Homo sapiens: one gene and its partners. The protein of the gene in region 7 purifies or fractionates together with the protein of the main gene of each other region. This does not show direct contact. Each region holds a gene or a part of one and is shown on either strand. Other genes may lie near its edges.

The links.
Region 1: the proteins of MRAP2 (region 7) and CC2D1A purify together in Homo sapiens (affinity purification with mass spectrometry; 2 studies listed by BioGRID and IntAct, with this or other methods). This does not show direct contact.
Region 2: the proteins of MRAP2 (region 7) and ARFGEF2 purify together in Homo sapiens (affinity purification with mass spectrometry; 2 studies listed by BioGRID and IntAct, with this or other methods). This does not show direct contact.
Region 3: the proteins of MRAP2 (region 7) and TEX2 purify together in Homo sapiens (co-immunoprecipitation; 3 studies listed by BioGRID and IntAct, with this or other methods). This does not show direct contact.
Region 4: the proteins of MRAP2 (region 7) and SLC25A20 purify together in Homo sapiens (affinity purification with mass spectrometry; 2 studies listed by BioGRID and IntAct, with this or other methods). This does not show direct contact.
Region 5: the proteins of MRAP2 (region 7) and CSNK1G3 purify together in Homo sapiens (affinity purification with mass spectrometry; 2 studies listed by BioGRID and IntAct, with this or other methods). This does not show direct contact.
Region 6: the proteins of MRAP2 (region 7) and CERK purify together in Homo sapiens (affinity purification with mass spectrometry; 2 studies listed by BioGRID and IntAct, with this or other methods). This does not show direct contact.

What each region holds. Positions count from the first base shown.
Region 1 is NC_000019.10:13,926,124-13,930,387, reverse strand, and holds part of CC2D1A (coiled-coil and C2 domain-containing protein 1A), read right to left. Parts: intron 3,872-4,264; coding exon 3,798-3,871; intron 3,722-3,797; coding exon 3,663-3,721; intron 3,568-3,662; coding exon 3,516-3,567; intron 3,411-3,515; coding exon 3,311-3,410; intron 3,214-3,310; coding exon 3,123-3,213; intron 2,496-3,122; coding exon 2,358-2,495; intron 2,265-2,357; coding exon 2,200-2,264; intron 1,010-2,199; coding exon 946-1,009; intron 855-945; coding exon 728-854; intron 311-727; coding exon 234-310; intron 147-233; coding exon 99-146; intron 14-98; coding exon 1-13. UniProt on the Homo sapiens protein: Transcription factor that binds specifically to the DRE (dual repressor element) and represses HTR1A gene transcription in neuronal cells. The combination of calcium and ATP specifically inactivates the binding with FRE.
Region 2 is NC_000020.11:49,029,270-49,033,533, forward strand, and holds part of ARFGEF2 (brefeldin A-inhibited guanine nucleotide-exchange protein 2), read left to right. Parts: intron 1-2,779; coding exon 2,780-2,897; intron 2,898-3,753; coding exon 3,754-3,930; 3' UTR 3,931-4,264. UniProt on the Homo sapiens protein: Promotes guanine-nucleotide exchange on ARF1 and ARF3 and to a lower extent on ARF5 and ARF6. Promotes the activation of ARF1/ARF5/ARF6 through replacement of GDP with GTP. Involved in the regulation of Golgi vesicular transport.
Region 3 is NC_000017.11:64,190,065-64,194,328, forward strand, and holds part of TEX2 (testis-expressed protein 2), read right to left. Parts: intron 3,826-4,264; coding exon 3,495-3,825; intron 1-3,494. UniProt on the Homo sapiens protein: During endoplasmic reticulum (ER) stress or when cellular ceramide levels increase, may induce contacts between the ER and medial-Golgi complex to facilitate non-vesicular transport of ceramides from the ER to the Golgi complex where they are converted to complex sphingolipids, preventing toxic ceramide accumulation.
Region 4 is NC_000003.12:48,864,193-48,868,456, forward strand, and holds part of SLC25A20 (mitochondrial carnitine/acylcarnitine carrier protein), read right to left. Parts: intron 1-4,264. UniProt on the Homo sapiens protein: Mediates the electroneutral exchange of acylcarnitines (O-acyl-(R)-carnitine or L-acylcarnitine) of different acyl chain lengths (ranging from O-acetyl-(R)-carnitine to long-chain O-acyl-(R)-carnitines) with free carnitine ((R)-carnitine or L-carnitine) across the mitochondrial inner membrane, via a ping-pong mechanism.
Region 5 is NC_000005.10:123,518,321-123,522,584, reverse strand, and holds part of CSNK1G3 (casein kinase I isoform gamma-3), read right to left. Parts: intron 1-4,264. UniProt on the Homo sapiens protein: Serine/threonine-protein kinase. Casein kinases are operationally defined by their preferential utilization of acidic proteins such as caseins as substrates. It can phosphorylate a large number of proteins. Participates in Wnt signaling.
Region 6 is NC_000022.11:46,685,887-46,690,150, forward strand, and holds part of CERK (ceramide kinase), read right to left. Parts: coding exon 4,106-4,264; intron 1,321-4,105; coding exon 1,248-1,320; 3' UTR 1-1,247. UniProt on the Homo sapiens protein: Catalyzes specifically the phosphorylation of ceramide to form ceramide 1-phosphate.
Region 7 is NC_000006.12:84,053,970-84,058,233, forward strand, and holds part of MRAP2 (melanocortin-2 receptor accessory protein 2), read left to right. Parts: intron 1-1,342; 5' UTR 1,343-1,349; coding exon 1,350-1,476; intron 1,477-4,264. UniProt on the Homo sapiens protein: Modulator of melanocortin receptor 4 (MC4R), a receptor involved in energy homeostasis. Plays a central role in the control of energy homeostasis and body weight regulation by increasing ligand-sensitivity of MC4R and MC4R-mediated generation of cAMP.

The DNA of each region.
Region 1 (4,264 bases), on a different chromosome or scaffold from region 7:
GGAGCCGCTGCAGCTGGGGGAGAGGAGGCCACTGGGGTCATGGAGGTGGGCTACGACCACAGTGATCCCCCAACCACCCCATCTCCTAAGCTGCTTACCTCACTCTCTACCAGATTCCGCCTATAGAGCGCCTCCTTTGCAGCATCCTGTGGGGGATGGGCATTCAGCAGGTAGTCCCTGCAGGCCCCACCCTGCCCGCTGCCCAGTGCCCACCCGGCCCGCGACCAGCTCACCCTGCTGCCATCGTTGCCCAGGCGCCGGGCAGCCTCCGTGTAGAACTGCAGCTGCCGCTCCAGCTGGGCTGCGTATTCTGAGAATGGATGGCGGGGGAATGGAGGCTTAGGGTGGGGCCTCACTGCCCACAACCCTCCTGGACTGTGCCCATCCCCAAGCCCGTCCCCCGCCAGGTGCCCATCCCCGAGCCCCTCCCCCTCCAGGTGCCCATCCCCGAGCCCCTCCCCCTCCAGGTGCCCATCCCCGAGCCCCTCCCCCTCCAGGTGCCCATCCCCGAGCCCCTCCCTCTCCAGATGCCCATCCCCGAGCCCCTCCCCCTCCAGGTGCCCATCCCCGAGCCCCTCCCCCTCCAGGTGCCCATCCCCGAGCCCCTCCCTCTCCAGATGCCCATCCCCGAGCCCCTCCCCCACCAGATATGCATCCCTGAGCACCTCCCCCCCCATGCCTATCCTGGAGCTCCTCCCCCACCAGATGCCCATCTCCAAACCCCTACCCCGTCGGATGCCCACACCCCCCTGCTCCAGCTGTGCCCTCTGCCACTGGCTGCGTTGCATGATGTCCTGGTACTGCTGGGCCACTTCTGGGGGCACCGGCCGCCGCGCCTGCCTGAGGGCCAGGATCTAGAGGATACAGAGGGTCCTGTGAGGATCCTGCCTGGGCCTGCAGACTCCCCAGTCCTGCCCCATGTAGCCCGGCAGGATGGATACCCACCTTCCGCTCCAGACGCTCTTGGTCAAACGCCAGCACACTGAGGCTATGCAGGGGCCGGGCTGATCTAAGGGGTGGAGGAAGGATAAGGGACTGCAGAGATTCCCCCAGCCCAACCCTGTTAATTCAAAAGACACACTGGGCTGGGCACAGTGGCTCACGCCTGTAATCCCTGCACTTTGGGAGGCGGAGGTGAGTGGATCATGAGGTCAGGAGTTCGAGACCAGCCTGGCCAATATGGTGAAACCCCGTCTCTACTAAAAATAGAAAAAAAATTAGCTGGGCATGGTGGTGTGCTCCTGTAGTCCCAGCTACTTGGGAGGCTGAGGCAGAAGAATTGCTTGAACCTGGGAGCTGGAGGTTGCAATGAGCCGAGATCACACCACTGCACTCCAACCTGGGTGACAGAGCAAGATTCTGTCTCAAAAAAAAAAAAAAGCCGAGCATGGTAGCTCATGCCTGTAATCCCAGCACTTTGGGAGGCCGAGGCAGGCAGATCACCTGAGGTCGGGAGTTCGAGACCAGCCTGACCAACATGGAGAAACCCCATCTCTACTAAAAATAGAAAAATTAGCTGGGTGTGGTGGCGCATGCCTGTAATCCCAGCTACTCAGGAGGCTGAGGCAGGAGAATCGCTTGAACCCCAGAGGCGGAGGTTGCTGTGAGCTGAGATCGCGCCATTGCACTCTAGCCTGGGCGACAGAGCTAGACTCTGTCTCAAAAAAAAAAAAAAAAAAAAAAGACACACTGGGCACTGGGGGTATGGTGGGAGACAGCCGAGAACCACCCGGTGTTACTGATCCCAAAACCTAGCGGGGATGATGGCTGCACACCCAGGAAACTATGATGCCTAGTGGTCAGGGAGGGCTTCCTGGAGGAGGTAACAGCCAAGTTGGGATCCAAAGAAGGAATCAGAGGTGGGCAGAGGAACAAGGAACACCCCTACCCTAGGTAGGGGTGTTCAGGGCACTGGAACCCACAGAAGTCCAGAGGCCAGTGAAAACTATTCATGGACATGAACCACAGGAGGGAGTAGGGAGAGAGAAGCCTGGATATGTTGACAATGGTCAGATCACAAAAGGTTTTAAAGACCAAACCAAGGAGTTTAAACTGGATCCTCTGGGAAAAGGGGTGCCAAGAAAGGTTTTGCAGCAGGAGAGGGACGTGGTCCAATTTGTGCCTGGTGGGAAACTGTCCAGGTGGGGCTGAGAGGGGAATTGGGTGTTTTCTCCAGCATGCCCTGGCCCAGATACCTACCTGTTCCCTGACTCCCTTGCAGGGGCAGGCACAGGAGGGGCCTTCCCTTTGGGCCCAGCAACCTGCTTCAGAGGAGAGAACCAGTCCTGTGAGTCCTGGGCCCCTGAACCAAGCTTCCCTCCCTGGGGTTGCTGATGGGTGGGGGTGGGGGGTCTCACTGTGGGCACAGCTGCCGGCACAGGGTCAATGACCAGCCACCTCTCTGTCGTCGTCTCCAACTGCTGGGCTGTCAGTGGCTCCCGAATCCGGACCATTACCTCCAGTCGCCCCCCTGTGGGCCGGCGACCATCCAGGACCTGGGTGGGGGTAAGGAGAAACTGTTGGTGGGAAGCAGGAAGTGACTAGAGGCCCAGGGCCAGGACAAGGGAGAACAAGACTGGTTTTTTTTTTTGGTTTTTTTTTTTTCTGAGATAGAGTCTCGCTCTGTTGTCCAGGCTGGAGTGCAGTGGTGCAATCTGGGCTCACTGCAAGCTCCGCCTCCTGGGTTTACTTACGCCATTCTCCTGCCTCAGCCTCCCGAGTAGCTGGGACTACAGGCGCCCGCCACCATGCCTGGCTAATTTTTTTGTATTTTAGTAGAAACAGGGTTTCACCATGTTAGCCAGGATGGTCTCGATCTCCTGACCTCGTGATCTGCCCGCCTCAGCCTCCCAAAGTGCTGGGATTACAGGCATGAGCCACCATGCCTGGCCAAGAGTGGTTTCTAAAATATGAGCCCATGGTATGGCTGAGATACCAGTTGATCATAATGGAGTGGGGTACTGCAAGTATTTAGGGCTGGGCAGTAGGGAGGTCTGAGGCTCTGAGGGGAGGGGCTGGGTCAACAGACAGGCTCATAGAGGGCTCAAGGCAGGAAGTGTTTTAATAATGTTAACGAGTAGCATGGCCATACCGGAGCACGCGGATGAATGTCCACCTCTCACCTCAAGGATCTCCCGGACCTCACATGCTATCTCCAGTGCATCCAGCTTCAGCTGGGCTGTCCCCAGCACCCGGTCAGTCTTGAACAGCCCCCTGTGTGCATGTGTGTATAGTGGGGACAGGATGGTTGGTTCAGAGGAGCTCCCCTCCCCTGGAGCCCACCCAGCGGCCATGGCTCTCTCTAGCTCACCCCTTGTGAACCACTTCGAACTTGATGCCCTTGGTCTGGATGGCCCTTCGGAAGCCACGGTGGCTGCGGTTGATGCAGAGTTTGAACTGCTCCTTGAACTCTGCAGGAGGAAGGAGGGAGAGGAAGTTGGGTGGGGTCAGGCCATTGTCTTATGTCCCTTCTGCTGCAAGGGAGTAGGGGTAGGGTGCTTCCAGCCGAGGCTCACCAGGGGAGTCTGTGTTCTTGATCACACTGGTCTTGTCTTTCTGAGCTTCTTCCTATGACCAGAGAGGAGGCAGGAAATCTAGGGGGCCTGGGACCTGGCTTTGGCCCACTGAGGCTGCAGCCCTCCCCTCCTCAGCTCCCCACGTACCACGTTGGGATAGGGGAAGTCAAACCGAACAAAGACATCCAGATCGCCAGGGGACAGTCCTGTGGGCAAACAACGGTCAGAGCTGGGCAGAGAGGGGGTCCCCATGACCCTGACCCTTGCCTACAGCCCCCTCACCTGGGGGTGTGGGCAAGTTGATGCCCTTCACGATGAAGAGGAGCATGTCGTTGCTGCTGAGGTCAGGGAAGATCCTTCCGGGTGGGCAGGTGGGCAGGCAGGTGGGCAGGGAAACAGAGGCACCTCAGTCCCACTGCCCGCCTGCCTTCTCTTCCCCCAGTGGGGGCAGGGAACAAACCCCACCCTGGCCTTCGGGGGTGTCTCAGCTCCTGGGCTCATTTTAGAATCAGACAGACTAGAGTTCTCTGTTCAGGTTGGCAATGGATCACTTTCGAGTCTTTTCTTCAGTCTGTGTATATTTATTTGGTATCTACTGTGTGCTAGGTACCCTAGCTGCTGGGTGATATTCCCTTCACTTAACAGTTGTTGAGTCCTACTAAGCATCAGCCAGTGCCCTAGCTGCTGGGAGATCTTTCCTTCATTTCCCAATGTTTCTTGAGCACCTACTATGTGCCAGCCAGTACCCC
Region 2 (4,264 bases), on a different chromosome or scaffold from region 7:
TAACACACAGTGCTGGCAAATGTGTGGTAAGAATGCACTCTCCTGCGTAGCTAGTTGGAGTGTATAATGGCATGATCTTTCTGGAAAGTAGGTGAGACTATATACCAGGAGCCCTAAAGTGTTCATTCTCTGTGACTCAGTAATTCCACTGTTATGGAATCTGCTTCAGAAAATATTTTAGAAATAGGAACCAGGAATACCACATGGAATATTCACTGCAGACTTATCAGGAGAAAAAATTTTAAGCAGCTCAACTGTGGAATGAATAACTAAGCTGTAATATGTCCTAAATTATGATATTATGAAACATAGTCATTAAAAGTGAATTTTTTTTTTTTTTGAGACGGAGTCTTGCTCTGTCGCCCAGGCTGGAGTGCAGTGGTGCAATCTCAGCTCACTGCAAGGTCCACTTCCTGGGTTCAACCAATTCTCCTGCCTCGGCCTCCTGAGTAGCCAGGATTACAGGCGCGTGCCACCATACCTGGCTGGTTTTTTGTATTTTTAGTGGAGATGGGGTTTCACCATGTTGGTCAGGCTAGTCTCAAACTCCTGACCTCAGGTGATCTGCCGACCTCCGCCTCCCAAAGTGCTGGGATTACAGGCATGAGCCACCGTGCCCAGCCTAAAAGTGAATTTTTTTTTTTTTTTTTTTTTTTGAGACAGAGTCTTGCTCTGTCACTCAGGCTGGAGTGCAGTGGCGTGATCTTGGCTCACTGCCACCTCTGCCTCCCGGGTTCAAGTGATTCTTCTGCATCAGCCTCCCGAGTAGCTGGGACTACAGGCGTGTGCCATCACACACCTGGCTAATTTTTGTGTTTTTAGTAGAGACAAAGTTTCACGATATTGGCCAGGATGGTCTTGAACTCCTGACCTCGTGATCCCCCCACCTCGGCCTCCCAAAGTGCAGGGATGGGCGTGAGCCACTGCGCCCGGCCTAAAAGTGAAATTTTTAAGAAATAATTTTACTTAATGTGGGAACTTTTTCATAATACAATAATTTTTACCCCAAAAAAAGCTGCAAAAGTGTTTTTACTTGGAATTTTCAGCAATTGGGGCATTTTATTTGTTTTTTTAGAGTCAGGGTCTTGCTATGTTGCCTAGGCTGGTCTCGAACTCCTGGGCTTACGAGCTCTTCCTGCCTCAGCCTCCTGAGTAGCTGGGACTACAGGCGAGCAATTTTTCTTTTGAAATCTTAGCAAAAAAAAAAAAAACTGGAAGGAAATATGCCAAAATATTGTCATGTATCCCTTAGAATGATGTAGCTATTTTTCTTTATAATTTTTTTCATAATTTTTTACATATATCAGTTACCTTACAATGAGAATAACAAGTCATAAAGTGAAAAAAGAATTAATTAATTAAAGGAGGCACCAATGGCTCATTTCAGCTTAAGCCCAAAAGACAAATACCTACAGTCTCATAAAGTTTCTCTAAAGGAGATATGTAGGGCCGGGCGCGGTGGGTCACATCTGTAATCCCAGCACTTTGGGAGGCCGAGCCAGGTGGATCACAAGGTCAGGAGTTTGAGACCAGCCTGGCCAACATGGCCCTGTCTCTACTAAAAATACAAAAATTAACCAGGCATGGTGGCAGGCGCCTGTAATCCCAGCTACTCGGGAGGCTGAGGCAGGAGAATCACTTGAACCCAGGAGGCAGAGGTTGCAGTGAGCCAAGATTGTGCTGTTGCACTCCAGCCTGGGCAACAAGAGCAAGACTCCGTCTCAAAATAAAAAAAAGAGATATGTAAATGTCAAGTTTTTGGCATGTTTTTTAAAAAAGCAATTAAATGTGATTGTGAGGAGAGAAAGGCAGTTATATAATTATGAGTAATAAGCTCTTGTGCTACAGACATTGATTGAGTTCAGCCCTAGCCATGTGCCAGGACTGAGCCAAGTTATGACTTAACATATTTACTTCATTTAATCCTCACAACAACCCCTTGAGTTTGGACTTTTTTTTTTTTTTTTTTTTTTTTTTTTTGAGATAGTCTCACTCTATCGCCCAGGCTGGAGTGCAGTGGTGCAATCTCAGTTTACTGCAACCTCCACCTCCTGAGTTCAAGTGATTCTTGTGCCTCAGCCACCTGAGTAGCTGGAATTACAGATACGCACCACCACACCCAGCTAATTTTTCTATTTTTAGTAGAAATGGGGGTTTGCTACATTGGCCGGGCTGTCTCGAACTCCTGGCTTCAAGTGATCTGCTTGCGTTGGCCTCCCAGAGTGCTGGGATTATAGGCATGAGTCACTGCACCTGGCCAGGCAATTTTTTATCTCCATTTTATAGCTGAAGAAACTAAGGCTCAGTGATTTGCCCAAGATAGCACAGCCAGAGTGGGTGCTCAATAGTTATTGCAGTGGCTGGGCTCAGAGGCTCAGGCTCACATCTATAATCCCAGCACTTTGGGAAGCCAAGGCAGACAGATTGCTGAGCCCAGGAGTTCAAGACCAGCCTGGGCAACGTGGTGAAACCCCATCTCTACTAAAAATCAAAAAAATTAGCCAGGCATGGTGGCGCAAGCATGTAGTGTTAGCTGCTTCAGAGGCAGAGGTGGGAGGATCAGCTTGAGCCCGAGGAGGTCAAGGCTACAGTGAACCTTGATCACACCACTGCACTCCAGCCTGGGCCGCAGAGCAAGACCCTGTCTCAAAAAAAAAAAAGTAATTAAAAAAAACATGTTAAAATAATTTTAAAAATAGCACAAGAATGAATAGTTCTCCCCTGAATGTGAGATGTTAATCAATTGTTTGATATGCCTCCCCCTCTCTAATTCTTCTAGTGTTTGCAGTGAAGCTCTTGCCTATTTCATCACTGTGAATTCTGAGAGCCATCGGGAGGCCTGGACAAGTCTCTTGTTGTTACTTCTAACTAAAACCCTCAAAATAAATGATGAAAAGGTATGAACAAGTAAACTCTGACCAATTTTCACTAGGACATAAAGTTTGGGTTGGCTTTTTACTCAAGAGTTTGCAGTAACTATTTTCTCAGTTCTCCCAAGGATGGTTACGTGACTAGCACCATTCTAGATGCATTGGAGAGAAGTTAATCCGTTATGGACAATGGGTGCCACAGGATATTAGGGCTTTTTGCCTGGAAGAACAGTAGTTGAGAACGGCTGAAGTGTAGACCTCATGTGTTGCTGTTAGGAATGGTATGGTGAGTTTCAGTGCAGGAAGAGAGGGTTAAGATTGTGAAGCACCAGTTTTGACCTAGGAACCTGCTTTACAAAATAAAAGAGCTGTTGACTTTTGGCAGCAAGACTATCCAAATTTAATTAAAGTTAAATATAACTGAAAGAAGCTTTAATTTGCAAGGTTTCTTCAACTTCTTTTTTTTTTTTTGAGACAGAGTCTTGGTCTGTCACACAGGCTGGAATGCAGTGACGTAATCTAGCTCACTGCAATTTCTGCCTCCCAGGCTCAAGCGATCCTCCCACCTCAGCCTCCTGAGTAGCTGGGACCACAGACACGCGCCACTATGCCCAGCTAAGTTTTTGTATTTTTGGTAGAGACAGGGTTTCACCGTGTTGCCTAGGCTGGTCTCGATCTCCTGAGCTCAAGCGATCCACCTGCCTCGGCCTCCCCAAGTGCTGGGATTATAGGCGTGAATCACTGCGCTCGGCCCCAACTTTCTAATAGCAAGAAAAGCACCAATATTGTAATAAGTTCCAGGGTGAGATTAACACTTCTGAAAAACTGGTGCCCAAAAAAAAAAAAAATTGTCTAATTTTATCTGTTTCTCTCCCACCTCAAGTTCAAAGCACATGCTTCAATGTACTACCCCTACTTGTGTGAAATTATGCAGTTTGACCTGATCCCTGAGCTCCGAGCAGTTCTGCGGAAGTTCTTCCTACGGATAGGTGTTGTGTATAAGATATGGATACCAGAAGAGCCATCACAGGTACCAGCAGCACTGTCACCAGTGTGGTAGCCCTGGCTGCCCAGGCCAGTGCTGCAGCTCTGCAGAATGTTCAGCATGCCATTTCTGACTGGCACATCTCGTGAAGTTTCATAGAAACAAGGAGTTGGCATCTTGGATCTCAGAATGGCCTGGAAACGGATGGCCTCTACGCTGTTCCATCACAGTCTCCAACTAAGGCTTATGGTATTTCATTAAACTGTTGCATACCCAGTTAGCACAGTAGGTGGGGAGTCTGCTTCATTTCTATCATTCCATTTTTCTGATTAAACTGTCAAATCTGTCATTGCATATGCCATCGTTTTCTAGCAAAATCCCATGATTGGCTATAAACGTTTTGTAAGAA
Region 3 (4,264 bases), on a different chromosome or scaffold from region 7:
TCAGAACCATAATTCCCCAGAGCCTCACAAAGGGTCACGCAAGCCATTTCTTAATTTAAATTTTAGCCAGATAATTTCCAGCACTTTAATATTTTACACTGCATAACTATAAAAATACATTTTTGTAACTTTTATTATCCTTATACCGTTTTCATGTTTAGCATTTTTTTAATTGCTAGGATAAAAGCTACATCAAAAACATTAAAAAATAGATGTAAACTAATATTACATTTAATATCCTGGATTGGATCCTGGAAGAGAAAAAGGACATTAGTAGAAAAACCAGTGAAATCCAAATAAAGATTACAGTTTAGTTAATAGTAAAAAAGAGAAAAAAAGATGAAATAAACAGGGCAGCATGATACCAACACTTCAAACCAAACTGATCCCATTGTGACTGAGCCACACTCCATGTAGAGGAGGAAAGGAACCCCCTACGAGGCCTGGCTGGTGCTCATTGCCCACAGAACAGCCTCTTCACATCACCTCACCCTTCCCCTGAGTGGGACAAAGCACAGGAGTCGTCACTGCACTGTGGGTCTCATGGACAATAGCCCCTGATAAAGTCAAGGACCTTCCTGTGCAGAGACCATACTGGAATTCTGCCAAATGACCATGTGGCTTTCCTGCTGTCTCCAGATTCTTATTCCTCCGGGAGGCCTTTCCTGACCTGCAGCCTGGGCACTGCTGGCTGGAAATGCAGAATCTCAGCCCCACCCATGACCTCGAGTCAGAACCTGCATCTTAAGATCCCGTCAAACATTCAAGTCTGAGAAGCACAATCCGTGTTGCTAGAGAAATCTATGATTTTGGTGACAGCATCCCTGAGGGAGAGGACAGGGCAGGTCGTCGAGCAGGAAGACTTCTAACTTCTTGGTACTGATAGATGTACCTGGCCTCAGAGAATCAGACCAGTCCTACCTTCACGGCTGACCACCTATGTAGTCACTGATTCAGAGATGGTTTTGAAGAACAGCACAGTGCTCACCAATTTACCTTGCTACTAGTTTAATCACACTTTTGGTGGCTTAAACTTACCATAAATATCTCAATTCATAGCTTTCAAAGGCAACCCAGACTTACAGATGTACGAAGACATTAGTGGTGTGTGAGCCTTGCTTTAGTACCAGTGAGTGCACTGAAGGTTTTCCCACATCTCTGACTCTTACCATTATGTTTGTTGTGTGCTGAGTGGAACTTTTGGCAGGATTTCCAAAAATTGAACTCGTTAAAAATAATCAAATGCTTTATTTAAGTCCATGAATAACATGCCTCTTTTGAAGGTGCTCTGGGGGGCCCCTAAGTACCTAAGGTGGTGTTTCCTGGTGGCCCCATATACCCCCGTGGGTTACCTGATTCTGAGCTTCAGTGCCTAGACCAGTAGACCTTTATATTTCCAGTAGGAATACAATCTGAGCCACATAAACAATTTTAAATTTTCTAGTAGTCACATTTAAAAATGTAAAAAGAGGTCGGGCACAGTGGCTCACGCCTGTAATCCCAGCACTTTGGGAGGCCAAGGTGGGCGGTTCACTTGAGGCTGGGAGTTTAAGATCAGCCTGACCAACATAGTGAAATCCTGTCCCTACTAAAGATATAAAAAATTAGCTGGGCGTGATGGCGGGTGCCTGTAATCCCAGCTACTCAGGAGGCTGAGGCAGGAGAACTGCTTGAACCTGGGAGGCGGAGGTTGCAGTGAGCCAAGATCGTGTCACTGCACTCCAGCCTGGGCAACAAAGCTAGACTCCATCTCAAAAAAAAAAAAAAAAAAAAAAAAAAGAAAGAAAGAAAAAGAAAGGTAAAAAGAATACAATTAATTTGAATATATTTTTAACCCAATATATCTAAAATATTATTTCAACATGTAACCAATATAAGAAGTTATTAATGAGATATTTTACATTCTTTTATTGGACTAAGACTTTGAAATCCAATGTGCATCTTATACTTAGAGCACACCTCCATCTGGACTGGCCACACTTCAAGTGTTCAAAAGCCACATGGGGCTGGTGGCTACCGTAAGAAGCAGCACAGGTTTAGACCTACCAGGAGAGCTAGGCAGTGCCTGGTGCTGAGGAGTTCTTACCCACTTGAATTTTCTTTTACTCAGTGTTATGGGTTGAATTGTGTCCTCCAAAAAATATGTTAAAGTCCTAACCCCAGTATCTCAGAATGTGACCTTATTTGGAAACAGAGTCATTGTAGATGCCATTCATTAAAATAAAGTCATACTAGAAACAGGGTGGGCTCCTAATCCCATATGACTGGTGTCCTTCCAAGAAGACACAGAGCCACTGACAGACAATGCCATGTGATGATAGGCCAGTGTGGAGTGATGCGGCTGCGGGCCAAGTATTGATGGTCACCACCAGAAGCTGCAAACACGCAAGGAAGGATTCTATGCAGAGTCTCACAAGGAGCATGGCCCTGCTAACACCTTGATTTCAGACTTCCAGCCTCCAGTACTGTGAGAGAATACATTTCTGTTGTAAATCACCCAGCTTGTGGTATTTTGTCCCAGCAGCCCTAGGAAATAAATATATCTAGTAATCTCCCCATTCGTCTTGATTCTTAAAAGGGACTTCTTAGATCTCAGTGCTGGGATTAGGATGGAATCTGGTGTTGAAGCTGACAGAATGGAAGGTTAGCAAAGGAGTTAGGGCAAAGGCTCAGATTATGTTCCAGGGGAAGGAACCAAAGCACTCTGAAGCAATGTGTGACACTCATGTGACCAGCATAACTCCCGGATCAACACAAATGCCTTGTTAGAGAAAGCCCCAGAGTGGCTCCCTCCTAGTCTTTGTTTCAGATCCATGTAAGAAAGCTTTCCCTAATAACACCCACACTGGTCTTGTCCCAATTATTTGTTACACCACACTCATTTTAGCATGGCAATTTGTGAACACCTGACTCATACGTGCCAGTTTTGCATAACAGGCACAACACCTGAAGGACAGGGGAGCTACTGCTTTTTACTGGTTTTGTGTCTCTTGCAGCTCCAAGCCCAGCCAAAGCTGAGCAAAGAGGTGCTGCATGGTTATCAATCCGAATGACCACGATCTGACCTGAATGGTCAGGAAGTGCAAGGATTCTGCATTCTATGGCAAGCTCAGGCTCGGAAGACATATTGAGGGTCAGGTGCTCGAAAGTACCAGCCTGAAGGATCTCCCTGACTCACCTGCCATCTCAGAACCAGGGTTTTTCTGTTGCTGCTTCTCTCAGGGGAGTCACATTATATACAAATAAAACATAACCAGCAAAGGCTAATAAACATCATCTGCAAATGGATCCATCATTGGTTAAATGATTTGGGACAGACGGCTGCAGTGATCAGCCTAGATGGTAAATGAGTCATGAGAATGCACATTAGGTGGCAGACAACCATCAGTTCAGGGTGGGCTTCCTTCCTTCCTTCCTTCCTACCTGGCATTCTTTCTCTATTCTCCCTAGTGGCCCTTTAAAAATGCATAAGCATTTAGCACAAACATCATTACCTGGTTTACCTCCAGAGACACCCGATGACTTCTTGATTTCCGACTTTAGCTTAGATGCCAGAATAAATCTCCTAAACCATTCCTCTTTTTCTCGGCCAGTTCTCCCAAAGAGATAGAGTATCTGATCTCGCTGGCTAGATCTTGTTCCCTCCTGAGGGCGGGGTGGCTTCTTAGGGTCCTCACTTCCCTCAGCTGGCGGCTTCTCTTCTGAAGTCTCCTTATCAGTCTGAGCTTTAGACATAAAGTCATCTTGCTGACCAAGCTCGATACAAATGGGGTACTTTTTATTCCAGATTCGCTTTCGAGCCAAAGTTTTAGGTACAAGATAAATCTACAGAGAAAGAAAAATGATGATTTATATATTAAAGATTGGCTACACTATGCATTAATATTATGCATAGCACAAAGTGCAAACCTTATAGACTTTTTGACTAAAATGATGAATATGAAATAACTTTCAACACTTGTTCATAACATGACTACAGAAACTGGAATTTTCAGAAGTGTCTTGTTATTCTTCAAAATCATTCCACAAAGTAGGCATTTAATAATTTTGCGAGAGTTATAAATATCCGTAATTTTCAGGTGGCAGTAGCACAATAATAATGTTTAGCTGCTTATCATCAACTATGTTTGGCTATCAACTGAATTTAATGACCTTGGACCAAACTTAAGTTGGAAGAAAAAAAAAGATAGCTAAAATCTAGATGGGAAGCTAAAGTCAACCTTGAGTATCAAACTCAAGTTAAGAATAAACTTATATAAAAACT
Region 4 (4,264 bases), on a different chromosome or scaffold from region 7:
CAAAACTTAGCTGGGCGTGGTGGCAGATGCCTGTAATCCCAGCTACTCAGGAGGCTGAGGCAGGAAAATGACTTGAACCTGGGAGGCGGAAGTTGTAGTGAGCCGAGATTGCACCACTGCACTCCAGCCTGGGTGACAGAGTAAGACTCTGTCTCAAAAAAAAAAAAAAAAAAAAAAAAAAAAAGCAACAAATATGTGAATTAAGCAATAGGCTTTGTATAAATAAAACTCTAAAATATCTGAGGATTACAAAATAAGAGGTCAATAAAAAGAGTCCTAATTCTAGTTGGGAAAAGTTTTCAATAAGAAAGATTTCTATTTTTCTAAAAATAATAAATGTAAGATAATGTCAATTGAGTATCAATGGTTTTTTTTTTTTTTGGTATAACTTCCCCAAAGTATCCAGACATATGTACCTGGTATGTCTGAGGAACAGAAGGAAGGTCATGTTATCTGAGAATGCTGGAGCCAATTCACAGTGACCTGGGGGGCCGTGGAGGATTGGGCATAGGAATAACATATTTACAGAATCCTATCATTGTTATGTATGTACAGACTATAAGAAGGGAAACAAGTAAGGAGGCCCTCACTGTCATCCAGGACAGCGATGAAGGTGGCCTGAAGTAGTATGGCCACAATGGAGATGGTGTGAAGGGATGGATTTGGGATAATGTTGAAAGCCAGCCTAATTGCTCAACAGATGGAATCTAAACCGTGGGAGAAAAAGAGGAATTTAAGAGGACTCCTGGGCTATAATCCTGAATAATTACAAGGATGCTATTGTTACCAACTGAACTGGAAAATGCTGAGAGTAGAGGAGGTACAGGGAAGACCAGGAGCTCAGTTTTGTACATGATGACTTTGAGGCACCTATTAGCATCCACATAGAAATGTTGGATAAACTAGTCTGGAGTTCAGGAAAAGTCTGAGTTGGAGATATAATTTTTTTTTTTTGAGACGGAGTCTTGCTCTGTCACCAGGCTGGGGTGCAGTAGTGCAATCTCAGCTCACTGCAACCTCCGCCTCCTGGGTTCAAGTGATTCTCCTGCCTCAGCCTCCCAAGTAGCTGGGACTACAGGCACGTGCCACCACACCTAGCTAATTTTTGTATTTTTAGTAGAGATGGGGTTTCACCATGTTGGCCAGGATGGTCTCGATCTCTTGACCTCGTGATCCATCCGCCTCGGCCACCCAAAGTGCTGGGATTACAGGCGTGAGCCACAGCGCCCACAGAGATATAAATTTGAGTCATCAGCATAAAAATGGTGTCTAAAAGTCATGAGACAAGGCTGGGTGCGGTGACTTACTCCTGTAATCTCAGCACTCTGGGAGGCTGAAGTGGCCAGATCACTTGAGGCCAGAGTTCCAGACCAGCCTGGTCAACATGGTGAAACCCTGTTTCTAAAAAAAAAAAAAAAAAAAAAGTCCCCCAAAATTAGCTGGGTGTGTGCCTGTAGTCCCAGCTACTTGGGAGGCTGAGGCACAAGAATCACTTGAACCCAGGAGGCCTGGGTTGCAGTGAGCTGATATCGCGCCACCGCACTCCAGCCTGGGAGACAAAGCGAGACTCTGTCTCAAACAAAAAAAAAAAAAAGAAAAGAAAAGAAAGATAAGTACTGAGAACTAACCACTGAAGTGTAAAAGTCACTAGTGACCAGCTGGGCATGGTGGCTCACGCCTGTAATCCCAGCACTTTGGGAGGCCGAGGCAGGTGGATCACGAGGTCAGGAGATGGAGACCATCCTGGCCAACATGGTGAAACCCCGTCTCTACTAAAAATACAAAAAAAAAATTAGCTGGGCCTGGTAGCGTGTGCCTGTAATCCCAGCTACTCGGGAGGCTGAGGCAGGAAAATTGCTTGAACCAGGGAGTCGGAGGTTGCAGTGAGCTGAGATCATGCCACTGCACTCCAGCCTGGCGACAGAGCGAGACTCTGTCTCAAAAAAAGGAAAAAAAAAAGTCACTAGTGACCTTGATAAAACCACTTTATTTGCAGTTGTGAGGCAAAAGCCAGATTGGAGCAGGTTTAACAATTAGAGGAGAGGAACTGGAAATGGCAGGTATAAAAAAACCAGAAACAGGCTGGTGTGGCAGCTCACGTCTGTAATCCCAGCACTTTGGGAGGCCAAGGTGGGTGGATCACCTTAGGTCAAGAGTTCAAGACCAGCCTGGCCAACAAGGCAAAACCCCATCTCTACTAAAAGTACAAAAATTAGCAGGGCGTGGTGGTGTGCACCTGTATTCCCAGCTACTCGGGAGGCTGAGGCAGGAGAATTGCTGGAACCTGGGAAGCAGAGGTTGCAGTGAGCCGAGATTATGCCACTGCATTCCAGCCTGGGTGACAGAACAAGACTCCATCTCAAAAAAAAAACAAAAAACAAAAACAAAAACAAGAAACAACTTTTTCAAAGAGTTTTTGTGTAAGAGGGAGCAAAGTCATGAAGCATAGAAATTGGTGTGGAAAAGACTGGACAGAAGTTTTTTTGAGACAGGTTCCCGATGATCTCTGCTCACTGCAGGCTCAACTTCCTGTGCTCAAACGATCCTCCCACCTCAGACTCCTGAATAGCTAGGGCTACAGGTGCATGCCACCACACCTATTTTTTTTTTCTTTTTTTGAGACGGAGTTGTAATCTTCTAGCCCAGACTGGAGTGCAATGGCGCGATCTCGACTCACGGCAACCTCTGCCTCCCAGGTTCAAGCAATTCTCCTGTCTCAGACTCCCGAGTAGCTGGGATTACAGGCACCTGCCACCATGCCTGGCTAATTTCTTGTATTTTTAGTAGAGATGGGGTTTCATCATTTTGGCCAGGCTGGTCTTGAACTCCTGACCTCAGATGATTCACCCGCCTCGGCCACCCAAAGTGCTGGGATTACAGGTGTGAGCCACCGCGCCTGGCCCATGAATGGCTAATTTTTGTATTTTTTTGTAGAGATGGGGTTTTGCCATGTTGCCCAGGCTGGTCTCAAACTCCTGGGCTTGGGTGATCCATATACCTCAGCTTCCAAAAGTGCTGAGATTATAGGTGTGAGCCACTGTGCCCAAAGTTTGTTTTTGTTTTCTTTTTTGAGATGGAGTTTCGCTCTTGTTGCCCAGGCTGGAGTGCAGTGGCGAGATCTCGGTTCACCACAACCTCTGCCTCCCGGATTCAAGTGATTCTCCTGCCTCAGCCTCCCAAGTAGCTGGGATTACAGGATGCGCCACCATGCCTGGGTAATTTTTTTTTTTTTTTGTATTTTTAGTAGAGATGGGGTTTCTCCATATTGGTCTGGCTGGTCTTGAACTCCTAACCTCAGGTGATCCACTCACCATGGCCTCCCAAAGTCCTGGGATTACAGGCGTGAGCCACCGCACCCAGCCCAAAGTTTGTATTTTTAAGATGAAAAATGCAAGCATGTTTATGCCTTTATTCCTGATGAGAATGATCAAGTGGAGAGCAAAAACTGATGTCAGTGGCTGAGGGAAAAAAAAAAAACAAAAACAAATAATGTCTGTGGCTGGGCAAGAGGAGATGGGATCCAGTGCACAAAGAGGCCTGGGATCAAGCGGAAGCACAGGCCATCCTTGGTAGAAACAAGCAGGGTGGCCGGGCATGGTGGCTCATGCCTGTAATCCCAACACTTTGGGAGACCGAGGCAGGCGGACCACCTGAGGTCAGGAGTTCGAGACCAGCCTGACCAACATGGAGAAACCCCGTCTCTACTAAAAATACAAAAATTAGCCAGGCGTGGAGGTGCATGCCTGTAATCCCGGCTACTCGGGAGGCTGCGGCAGGAGAATTACTTGAACCTGGGAGGCGGAGGTTGCGGTGAGCCGAGATGGCGCCACTGCACTCCAGCCTAGGCAACAAGAGCAAAAACTCCATCTAAAAAAAAAAAGAAAAGAAAAGAAACAAGCAGGGCGGCAGCAGGTAGGTACATGGAGGTAGCAGAAGGCATCTGGTGAAATCCTCTTCTGATGGTTTCCATTTTCTCAGTGAAGTCAGAAACCAGCTCATCCACTGAGAAGGTGGGGGGTTGAGAAGAGGAGAGGTACGAAGCGGTCACACAGCAGAGTAGGAGGGTGTAAGAAAAGAGTAGGACTAAGTGAATGTCTGATGTAGGAGTAGAAAAGGACTTCAGGCATAGACAAAATGGAAGAAGCCATAAGGGAAAAGAGCGATGGACAAAGCCACTGAACACAAACATTCCCTAGGTCAAAATCAATAGATAGACTTCTACTTCTGGGAAGATGGAGTAGATGTACTTTTCCCTATTCCTCCT
Region 5 (4,264 bases), on a different chromosome or scaffold from region 7:
CAAAGGTTATAGGCAAATACTGTGCCATTTTATGTCAGGTACCTGGCCACACCCTCAGATTTTTTTTTTCTTTTTTTTTTTTGAGACAGAATCTCGCTCTATTGCCTAGGCTGGAGTGCAATGGTGTCATCTCGGCTCACTGCAACCTTTACCTCCCAGGTTCAAGCGATTCTCCTGCCTCAGTCTCCCAAGTAGCTGGGACGACAGGCGTGTGCCACCACGCCCCGCTAATTTTTTTGTATTTTTAGTAGAGACAGGATTTCACCGTGTTAGCCAGACGGTCTCAATCTCCTGACCTCGTGATCCGCCTGCCTCTGCCTCCCTAAGTGCTGGGGTGAGCCACAGCACCCAGCCCATCCTTGGATTTTGATAGCCATGAGGGGTCCTGGAACGAATCTGAGGAACTGTATGAAGCTATGAGCAGAAGCCACTACTTTAACTTGATTCTCTTGCTAATATTTTCTTTGCATTTTCTTCTGTGTCATCTTCATACCTCCACCTCAAATTTTAAAAAGACAGTTGGAAAATAAAAGAAAGCCATTTTTTTAAAGGGCTGAGAGTGTAAAAAGAAGGAGAAATTAGTTATTTTCAACCCTGCAGGACACTGGAATCGTCTGTAGAAATCCTAAAATATATCAATGCCCTAGCCCTTTCCAGGCCCTACTGATTATTTATGGAATATAAATTAGCATGGGTAGAATCCCAACATCTGTCTTTTTTTTTTAAGCTCCCAAGAAAACTGTAATATGAACTCGGGCCAAGAACCACTAGTAAAAACTTTCTCCACAAATCCTTCCCTCCTCTCATCTATTTAGTTAAATGTTAGCATTCCCAGCCCATAGCAAGGACTGCATGAACTATCTTTAAAATTGTCCATTTTTCTTCTTTCATTTACTCTGTCACAGAAGAAAAATTACTAATTTTCAACTGGAAATTTTTAAACAAGTGTGTATAGTAAAATTAATTTTAGCTTATTGGATATTCTCATTCCCAAATGCTCAGGATTTCTTTTTCAGTCTTAAAAAAACCACCTTCATTAGTAGGTATTAAGGTAAACAGCAAAGCATACAATAATAAGCAAACTCACAATATGCATTCTAGTTATCGACTTTCAATAGATATCAGAAAATACTCAAAACAATTATCTTAAGGAGCTGATTATATTTTGATACTTTATTAACTACAAACATTTGCAGAATCTCAATTATATAAAGACACATCAGCAACAATATATCCTGATACTCGTATGACAGAAAAAGTACTCAGTAAAGATCCTTTTTTTAAAATAAAAACTGGCATCACAAGATTCCACATCTTTAAGATTTAAAGATTTACATTTTTGGAGTAGGGAGAGTCAGACTGTTGTCAGATTCCCTAAAATAAATGTAGAAAAGAAAATAATGTTTTGTAAAAAATATGCATCTATAAACACTTTTTTTCAAGGTCATCTAAAACTGACACCTACTAGTTTCATCTCCAAAACAATACTAGACTATTTTTGTACTCCAAATTAGAATTTTATTAAAAGGTCCTGTAGTCATAAATTTGCACACCCTAAGACTTATAGAATACCATAAATTTTCTCTCTTCTGTCCTGATTACCTAATATATTTGCCTGCCACTTGAAAGTATTCATTGCTAGAATATAAAATAAGTATTTCACAGAAATAGAAAATAAACATGACACACAGTGGGTGTAAAGAAAAAAAACATTTTCACTTCCCTTTTTACTAAAGGAAATTCTGAATATAATTTTAACTCTAATAAATCACAGTCTAATACACTGCCTAGTATACCACCTGAAGTCAAACCAAACAAACTAAAAAAATAAATAACACAATAATTTCAAAATATTCAGAAGTCCACTAATTTTATAATGTATATTTGTACCAAAAGATATTATATGGCCAATTTCAATTTAAAATTTTAAGATAAGTAATTTTAATACATCCAATTTTAAACATAAAGAAATCTGCAAAGTATCAATACATTTGAGGCACACTTTATTCATGGTAATATACAAGGAAAGCAGTTATATATTAAAATCTAAACTGGTAGAAAACACATCCCACCCCAAGATTCTACCCCCCTCAAAAAAAAAAAAAAAATTACTGTTTTTTCTGATGGTAGAAATAATGCACAGTGACAGCTGAAAACCCAAACAATATAGAGAAGTAAATGAAGTATAAAAATAAAAATCATCCTAAATCTCACCATTTATAAACAACTGACATTAACATAAATATTCTTCCAGAAGATGGATGGATTTACTCCATATACTTACAACCCATACATATATGTATCTATGTATACATGTATAGTATATATGCACATATATATTCCTTTCATTTACATATATTGATGGTAAAGAAATGCTTAAGATCATTTTCTTGAAAATAAAATAATGAATTGTCCCAAACAGTCTGCTTTTGCATTTTCATTTAAGCAGGCTAGGTTTAAGATTATTCCATGTGTGTGTGTCTGCCTGTCTTTCTGTGTGATGTTGTCATTGTTGTTGACTGCTTGAGGCAAGCTGAAAAATTTTGTCTGTTTACTTATTTTACTGGAAAAAAAAGAAAACTTCTGGTTAAATTTTTCCAAAGCCTAAGAACACAGGTATCTGTACTAAAGGTGATTAGCTGACTGATTTACATTGGTAGCCCACAGTCCTGAGCAAAACTGTAAAGTAGACAAGATTATTATGGCCTCCTAATTCTTACTCAGAAAGAGCACTCCACTAGTAATTAGGATATAAGAGTTCTACTAATCAGGTGTGTGGCTTGAGCATTTCAATCTTCCTATGATTCATTTTAAGTCTAAAATCCTATGGTCCTTCCCTTCCTCCCCAACCCCTTACCAACTCTGCTGCTCTCAAAATATGTAAAAACCATCCTTTCCTCCAATCTCACTGGAATTCCAGGATTCAAAATAAATCCTTCTGACCAAGAAACTCCCATTTCCTCAATGCACTTATTCTCCCCTAGATATGATAAGCAAAGTAATCAATGAAATCAAAGGTATGGGCAACTTCATGGTGAGGAAGGAAAGCAACAATGCAGAAAAAAAAATTTAAACAAGTTTATAGGAAAAAATTTTAATGTAAAATTAAATGGCTTCATGAGTTTCATAGAAAAAAATTATAATCTTTCAACTTCACCACCTATTTTATTGATTCAAAGTTAGCCAATGAAAAAATAAAGTAGTGTTTTTAGCTCCTAAAATATTCAGACCCAGCCGGGCACAGTGGCTCATGCCTGTAATCCAGCACTTTGGGAGACCGAGGCAGGCAGATCACCTGAGGTCAGGAGTTCAAGACCAGCCTGGCCAACATGGCAAAACCCCGTCTCTACTAAACATACAACAATTAGCCAGGAAAGGTGGCGACTGCCTGTAATCCCAGCTACTCAGGATGCTGAGGCAGGAGAATCACTTGAACCCAAGAGGCAGGGGTTGCAATGAACCGAGATCATGCCATGGCACTCCAGCCTGGGAAACAAGAGTAAAACTCCGTCTCAAAAAGTAACTTGCCAGCCACGGTGACTCAAGCCTATAATCCCAGCACTTTGGGAGGCCAAGGCAGGCAGATCACTTGAGGCCAGGAGTTCGAGACCAGCCTGGCCAGCATGGAGAAAGCCCATGTATACTAAAAATACAAAAATTAGCTGGGTGCAGTGGCATGCACCTGTAATCCCAGCTACTTGGGACGCTGAAGCACGAGAATCGCTTCAAAACAGGTAGACACAGCGATCACTATTTATCATCTCTCTAACATCCATATCCCCCAAATTCTTCCTTCCCACAATTTTTTTAAAATATCCTCCCTCTTCCATCTAACTCAGAAAAATGTGATCCCAACACCAATTGCAGAAGGTATCTCCTGATTAGTAGAAACCAACCATGATAACCTTACTTCCCTTATGATAACTAGTTAGGACGTTCATGTGACCTAATTCTGGTCAATAAGATACGAAGAGAAAAATATGTTGGTAGGCTTATGCAAAAGATGTATTTGCTTTTCCAGAGACACAGACAGAAAGAGAGAGAGAGATCCATTCCATCCTCTGGCCAGTGCATGTCTAGATGTGATCTTGCTGCTGGCCTTAGGATGACTCCAACACACAGAAGACAAACAGCCAAGAAAATCACAGAGGGGCAGACCAGAGCTCTCAAGTACTAGCTTGGAGCCACCCACCCTACCTTCATACTTCAATGTGCCATTTCAGCATCTACTGTAATTCAGCAAGCAATGTGGTTACACCAAAAT
Region 6 (4,264 bases), on a different chromosome or scaffold from region 7:
CCAAACGGCCACGGCCCCGCTCCTTACAGATCAAAGTTTAAGCCGCATATTCTCATATTTCAAACAAAACTACGTTACAGACATCATCTACGTGGGCACGGATACACACTAAACAAGGACGTAGTACACAATTGAGGGGTGCCCCGGGGAGCGCGGCAGGAATGCCTTCCGGGAAGAATCCTCTGGTCGCCGGAGCCCTCGCGCTGCAGAGGAAACCAGCGATCCATCGTGGCTTCGAGGCAAAAGACAGACATCCGAGACGCAGTTTACACTACTCTGGCTTAAAAGGACAAGATGTTCAATAAATATAGAGAACTCAGTGTGAAGAAAAGACAAGGACAAATCTGGACCACGTGTACAGACTTCAGGCCCTGCCTCAGAGGAGTCCTGCGGGAGTCCAGGACCGGCCCCTCCTCCACGGATGGCCAGCTTCCTCCTGACTGCCCCCAAGCCCGGCTGTGTTAAGCACTTCGCGTCGATATAAAGCATTGGTATTTGACATTTTAACAGTAACAAACTTGCCAGTGCTTTACACACTGCCAGCTTCCAGAGCTTATCATCCGTGCTCCCAGAACAGACGCCAAGGTCATGCTCCCAGCCGGATTGTCGTAGCCTCGCCGCCGTGATGAGGCAGGTGTGGAGGCCCCAGCAGCCTTCCCGGCGCTGGCGTGGAGGCCCCTCCCGCGGATCACCTGAAGCAGGGCCACGTTGCATTGCAGTTGCACAGTATTGTAAGGATCAAGCAGCGATGTCCTAACCGTAAACGAAGAGGAAGGTGAAATGAAGGCAAAGAGAATCAACCACTTCCCAAAACTTGGCCACAAACCGTTACAGAATAAGTCCTGCAAAGTGGATCAAAGTGACCCACTGCTACCTCAGGCCCAGATGGTGTGACCTGCGTGGAAATCATATAATGTCCCTAACATTATTGCAATAGAGCCACTAACGGGCCATTTTCTAAACTACACTGTTGACATCGTTAAAACCTAAGAGGCCAGTGCCCCCAAGTGAGCAGCTGCATCCGCTGAGAGTAAGCGGCGTGGGCTGCAACCCGCAGATGCGTACAGAACTGAAAATGCCAAATATGTACACAAAATTGTTGACAAAAGGGTTTTCTTCTAAAATCAAGATTTAACTATCAAAAATAAATTTCTACATTTAAATGTATATATCAACATAATTGGTCTGTAATAATTATCTTAAATAGTTTTCACACTTTCCCAGTTTGTGAGCAGGACGCCGGCTTCTCAGCTGTGTGAGTCTGGCTTCGGATTCTCTTCAATTCCTCGTGCAAAGAGTCGAACCAGCTGGCAGTGGACTCTGCAGAGACAAGCGGCCACGTGTAAACCCCACGTGTCCCTCACTCAAAGCTGGCCTGAGCCCCACTCCTGGACAGGGGCTGCAGTAAACCCCACGTGTCCCTCACTCAAAGCTGGCCCTGAGCACCGCTCTTGGACAGGGGCTGAAGTGGGGGTCCATCCCCCATGGAACGGTCAGACGTCACCGTGGGCTGTAGGAGTCCAGCCCACAATGACGGGCCCTGGGCGTGGAATAATTCACTTAGACTCCCGGGATGCCGAGTTTGTAAAGGGGTTGCCAATGGCCAGGTGGGAAATCTGGGCATCGGTAGACCTGACTCGAACTCCAGCACCCCCATGGAAAGCAGAGCGTCCGCTCCAGTGTCTGCCCACTCCACCCACCCACCCACCTCCATTTTCTCAGCAGTACTGAGCGCGCAAGGCCTGCGAGGAGTCTGTGCGGGGCGACTCAATGCGTGTAAGAGATGTGTGAGGAATGCTCAGATGAGAAGGACAGGTGGCCCAACGCCAGCAAGAGCCTTCGGGCTTGAGGAACAAGTTGGGGGTCCCTGGAGGTCCCCTGCCCAGGGGCTCGGTGGCCACAGTGAGTCCGTGGGTGAGTGCCATCTTCCCACACAGGACAGCTCTATTTATCTCATTTATTAATGATATCACAGCCTCCTCAGACGTATTTCAGTAACCTAAACCCCTTCATTAAGTGACAGGCTGGGGCAGGGCACAGTGACTCACGCCTATAATCCCAGCACTTTGGGAGGTCCAGGCGGGCGGATCACCTGAGGTCAGGAGTTTGAGACCAGCCTGGCCAACATGGTGAAACCCCGTCTCTACTAAAAATATAAAAATTAGCCAGGTGTGGTGGCGGGCGCCTGCTACTTGGGAGGCTGAGGCAGGAGAATTGCTTGAACCTGGGAGGCAGAGGTTGCAGTGAGCCGAGACCTCGCCATTGCACTCCAGCCTGGGCAACAAGAGCAAAACTCTGTCTCAAAAAATAAAAAAATAGAAATAAATAAGTGACAGGCTGTTTCCATGGAGCTGAGCTCACACACACACAAATTATATTTTTAAAAGCGACGTGCTGCTCAAGGCATAGCCATATTTATCAAGATAGACAGGACGTATTTCAAGAATGCCTGTCCTGATTTTCAAATTATTCTATTTCTTTAATAAATACATACACCAATATTAAAAATAATCCCACTTCCCAAACTTGTCAAATGAGTTGACAGAGGAAAGTCCCTGTGCACGGCTGCCTGGGGTGGCCGGTGTTCCTGGGACCTTTCGACAGCCTCTTGCCATCACCACCGCCCTGACAGAAAGAAAGGGGGCGCGTGGCCCTGGGCCTGGGGAGGGGCAGAGACCTCCTCCCTTAGGCTTGTTCGGATGCGAATGGGAGAAGCTTTCTTAGAGCCGCAGCTGGCTGGCTGAGGAGTCACTGAAAGTGGGGCGCTGTCCACAGAGATGCGTGCATCCTCTTACATGCTGTGACTTAAGGCACCCAAGGGCCATCTGACACCCAGCTTTCGTTGCAGACAGGCGTGGGCCTGCTGACCAGCCTGCTATCGCTCTCACGCCAGCCACACTCTGTTAACGAGCGTCAAGCTGGGCTTCCTTGAAGTAGACCGAGCTCTTACCAACATCTGCCAAGAGTTCAGAATCCACCTGAGCTCTACCGTTCCCCAGTCTCATGTAATTTGCACGCCCACACCTAATTCAGTGGCCTTTTGAAAAAATCAACTTGCTTGTTACTGGGTCTTTCCATGGAGAAACAATTTTCTTTGCACTCAGATTCCATCTGGTTATGTGATACATCACAGACTTCCAAATACAATGGGCCCCAGTGGGTGTGGGGAGGACACCACTTCCCACCCTCCGCCCAGCCAGCCAGAGGAGGGGTGTGGCACCTGCCCCAGGGAGACCGAACATCCGTGTGTGGCCACACCTGCCTCCCCGCGTCCCCTAGGCTGCGTGGCCTCCAGCACGGGGCGTCCCTCTGGGGCTCCTCCTCTCCTTCCCATCCTCGGGGTGCCCTTCCCAGCCCTGCTGCCTCCTGCCCCTCCCTGCACGGAGCACCTGCACTTGGTGATTGACTGTGGCCCTTGAGGCCAGCGGTTCCCTGGTGGATTCAGTGGACAAAGGACTGCCTGTAAAGGCGGTTTCCTTTGTTTGCCTTTTGAAATTTTTTTGAGATGGAGTCTCGCTCTGTCACCAAGGCTGGAGTGCAGTGGCATGGTCTCGGCTCACTGCAACTTCTGCCTCCTGGGTTCAAGCGACTCTCCTGCCTCAGCCTCCGGGGTAGCTGGGATTACAGGCATGCACCATCACACCCGACTAATTTTTTTTGTATTTTTAGTAGAGACGGGGTTTCACCATGTTGGCGAGGCTGGTCTTGAACTCCTGATCTCAAGTGATCTGCCCGCCTCAGCCTCCCACCTTTTGAATTATTTAGGAGAAGAGAGAGAGAATGCCAGGGCAAAGAGCCCAATGCCAGCCTGGAGCACAGGGTGTGGAAGAGGAAAAGAATGAAATGGAGGAGCTTCAAACACCCATGAAAATTATCTGCAAAACAAAATGCTGAGGACTCGGCACCCTGGCATCTTTCCAGAATGTGGGTAACGGCATCTCATTCGATATTTGACATAGGGAGAGAAAAGTGCATTTATAAAACATTCTTACGTTTTGTGTTTATAAAGCCCCAGGGAACCCCCCACCCTGGGTGGGGCAGCTTGTGACAGACACCTCAGGGCTCAAGGGGATGGCGCTGGTGGCTGGAGGACCCCTGCACGCACCTGACCTCGATGGCAGGGCTGTGCAGGACCTCCCCGTCGCAGTTCCAGGAGCTGTTGGAGACGGTGCAGCAGCAGGAGGGGTGGCTGCTGCAAATGTGCCCAAAGCGCTTCTTCCCCCCCTCCTTGAGGTCGCTGTCCTCATCCTCCATGTGCTTCGAC
Region 7 (4,264 bases):
GTGGGGTGGAAGGGTGGTGGTGATTTTGCCTCAGCTTCCCTGAGGATTGTGCCCTGGAGGCAGTGGGGACGGATGCGGGCGAAAGAAACCTCAGAAAGCTCTTGAAGTGGGGCTGCTTCAAGAATCTTGAAGCTCAAGATGACTGGTGACTGCTCAGTGAATCTTTGTTACCGCTGACATTTCATTCAGATTTTCCCTTATGTTACTGCTATTTGTCACTTTGTCTTCCTTTCTCCATTATAAGGGAAGGTCTGTGGAGTACTGATCTGTCTCAGGCATCTCTGCCCACCCCACAGTGTGCGGTGTCTTGCACACAGTAGGTGCTCAAACACAGTTATTGAACACAGGCTGCATTGACTTATCACCTTCGGTATCCGTGCTGCGCAGTGCAACCATCTTCTCCCAAAGAAGTCAGGATTTTTTGGTCTAAAATAGTCACAGTTAACAAAGATACTTGGGAAATCCTGAAAATATCATAAATTTCAGGAGTAAGCAGTTGGACAAGTTGTGGACTTCTGTTGAGTATCTTCTGCAAGATCCACTATGCAACTTTTGCTGCCTGTTTTTCTTTATTCACTCCATTTTATTAAACTTAGTTTCCTCCAAACCCACTGGAAGCAAGAAAAGCAAACAAACAAAACCTTAGGTTGCTCATCTCCATTGTTGCATAGTAGGTGTTGAATGGATACCTACTGAGCTAGTTCATTTCTGATACTAATTTGATTACTTCTCCTGAACATTCTTTCTTCTTACAGAACTCTCTGTCCTCTACCTCCCAAATCCCACAAAACATCTCGCCTCCACACATAGGCTGATTGCTTGGGAATGGTACAGGAGGCCCTTGGTGATTCTAATTGATGAAAGACTAAAAAATTCCCTTATAGGGGAACATAAATCAATGTCAATCTGAGATTGAGTAATACATCAAATTAGTATCAGCAATGAACTAGTTTCAGCAGGCTCTTTACATACTCTTGCAGGTATAGGTGCTGAGGCTGAAGCTGTAAGCTCAGAGATTTTGACATACTCTTTCCCTCCTTTCCTTCTTTCCTTCATCAGTTACTGAACATTTGTTATGTGCCAGGCATTGGGTTAAGTTCAAAAAAATATACAGTGTCTGATTTCAAATACATTATTCCACTCTAGTGGCAAGAGAAAAGGAAGTAGTGGCCACATGATATGAGGTGTGAGCAGCTGGTAAGAACCTCTCCTGGCCTAGGAGGTAAGACCTCCTCAAGGGGTTTGCTGCCAAACTCCTGAATGCGATCAAGAGTAATTAAGGTAACTGTGCAGCTCTGGATGAATTAACAGGTTCTGCGCTTGACTTTCTCCATTTGTGCAGGTCGGAGATGTCCGCCCAGAGGTTAATTTCTAACAGAACCTCCCAGCAATCGGCATCTAATTCTGATTACACCTGGGAATATGAATATTATGAGATTGGACCAGTTTCCTTTGAAGGACTGAAGGCTCATAAATGTAAGTTTTATACAATTCCTCATTGAAAGCATAATTGTATTTCTCTTAACCTGTGAAATCCCCAAGGATTACTTCTCCTGAGCATTCTTTCTTCTTTACAGAACTCTCTGTCCTCTACCTCCCAAATTCTACAAAACATCTCGCCTCCACACATAGGCTGATTGCTCAGGAATGGTACAGGAGGGCCTTGGTGATTCTAATTGATGAAAGACTAAAAAATTCCCATAGTAGGAGAACATGAATCAATGTCAAGCTGAGATTGAGAATTTTTAAAAAGCATTTGCTTTTTTAGCTCCTCCAAACTGTGAATGTTTGAACTATCAAAAATATGTATAAAAATAGGATCTGGAACTGTTATTTGAAGAACCTTCTTTTGTAACACAGCAGCATCTTTTCATCCCAGTTGGTTTCCTGGAGCTGTGGAGAGCAGTGTATCCATGTGTGCTCATAATGATGGACCAGAATAGCCTGCGATCATTTCTAACACTGTGTTCTAGGCATGAATTGTGTTTCATGCTATTGGAGTAATTAAGGGTCCAGCACAGAGCAAGGAAATGTAATTCTGTGAGACGTTGCTACTCAACTCCAGTCATAACTGAATGCTGACTGGCCAGCATGGAACATCCTTGCTTCATTAGGTAGAGTTAACAGTTAACATGGTAGGCAGGAACTGCTGCCCAGTCTCAGATCCTGTCTTGGTAACCCCGTAAATATCCCTGAAATGTTCACTTTTGTCAGAGTGAATTATCCACAGCACTGTAAAATTTTTATGCTCTTAACTGGTCCAGGTTAGTGGGACACATTAGGAAATATAAGAGGGCTTAGAATCAGAGAAACAAATGTAGCAAAGAAAGTGTTTTTGTTCCTTTAATTATTTCCTGGCTGCTTCTATCCTGACCTGTCTTGGCATTCATGATCTCTTGCACCAACTTGGTGCTCTTTTGCAAGAAGGGCTTTCTATTTTTGTTCCTTTAGCAAAAATCATTAATTAAACCATATGTCCTTTACCCCTTAAGTGAGTAGTAATAATTAAATACTTTCATTCATTCCTTTATTGACATCTGCTCAGTATTTCTTTGTGGAAAAAAAGCACATGGCATTTATCAAGGTATGCTGTCATTGATTATCTGAGAGAAGGCTGTTGGGTGTGAAATCACCTTCTTTAATTTACTTAAATTCTTTAATATGTTGTTTTTCTAGGATAACCTTTATGTAAGGACAATTGCTTGTTCTGAATTATAGTGGATATCAAAATGACTGGGAAAATTGCCACATATTTTCTTGAAATGTGGGCTTTTACTGCTTGGTGACATCAACTTTACTTTTGTGTCAGCTTGCTCCTATCTCTTTTCCTTAGTTTAAGAAGCACAGAAGACAGGCCTGCTGCTGTAATTTTGGTTGGTACATTTCCAGAGACAATTGAATAAAATATTTTTTGAGGATATTACATTCTAGAAATAATTATAGCTGGAAAACTTCATGAGAAACATAGGCAGAGGTGTGACTCATTCCTTACTTACTTACTTTACCTACTATACCATTAATAACAATTGCTTTTGTTAATTTTAATATTCACGTCAAGATAAAACAAAAATGCCTGAGCACTTACTGTTCTGATATAAGAGAGCTGATAAGTAGCAGCCCTTAGCTTCAGGAACCTGAAAATATATGCGACACATTGAGAACAAAAAATAAACAAACACAAAACCCCAGATATACAGGAAAGTGAAAAGATCAAGTCAACTGTTGAAATGTGTGCTCTGGTACAGTCTCTTTCATTTAAAAATGCTGTGACTCTGACCTTCAAGTATGACTCCTTGTTTTGCTGGGCAAAATTCAAAGCTAATTAGATGCAGATTCAAAAGAACAGAAGCAGGACATTTCAAGGGGAAGCACTCATTGCGGACAGGAATGACCATAACAGTTATCTTTATTTGCCTTACCTGTAATGGATCACACTTGGCAACAATAGCTCCATCTTTAGACTGAGTTCCTCTGCTGAAATTAAGATTCCTACCTTCAAAGGGTGTTTCATCTGAGAAGCAACCTCAGATGGTGCTTGAGAATTCTTTTGCCATCAGTTTTGAATCCAATATTAAACCTTATCATGTATCAGAAGTGGACATGTATCTGATACAGATTTGGCACCAACAAAGTGGAAACCTATTTATTTATTCATTCATTCAATATATATTTATTGAGCACCTGTTATGTGCAGTACTATTTTAAGCACTGGAGAGACAACAGTGAACTGAAAAGACAGAAATATTTCCTTGTATAGAGCTTGCATTCTAGTGGGAGAGACAGACAATAAATAGTTAAATAGATAATGTCAGATGGCAATATAAAAGGATAAATAGAGTGGGGGTAAAGGGATGTGGAGTGTGGAGGCGACAGTATAGAATTGCCATCGAAAGCCTTACTGAGAAGGAGAGATTTGATAAAAGACCTGAAGGAAGTGAGAGATTGAGCTATAATATATCTGGGGGAAGAACATCCCAGAAAAGGATCCTTGGCGGGAGTGAACTGGATCATGCAAGGAGGCCAGCGTGGTACCAGGGGAGTGATAAGAGGCAGAACAGCAGGAAACGAAGTCAAAGAGGCTGTGGGGACAAGGACATGGGGGGGCCTTAGAGGTCATGCTAAGGACTTTGTTTGGCCTTTTACTCTGAGAAGTCACTGGAGGGTCTGGAGCAGAGGAGTGCCATCTGGCTTAGGTTTCAACAGATCACTCTGCAACTGCGGAGTGAAAGGCATGAGATTAGAAGCAGAGACCATTCAGGAGGCT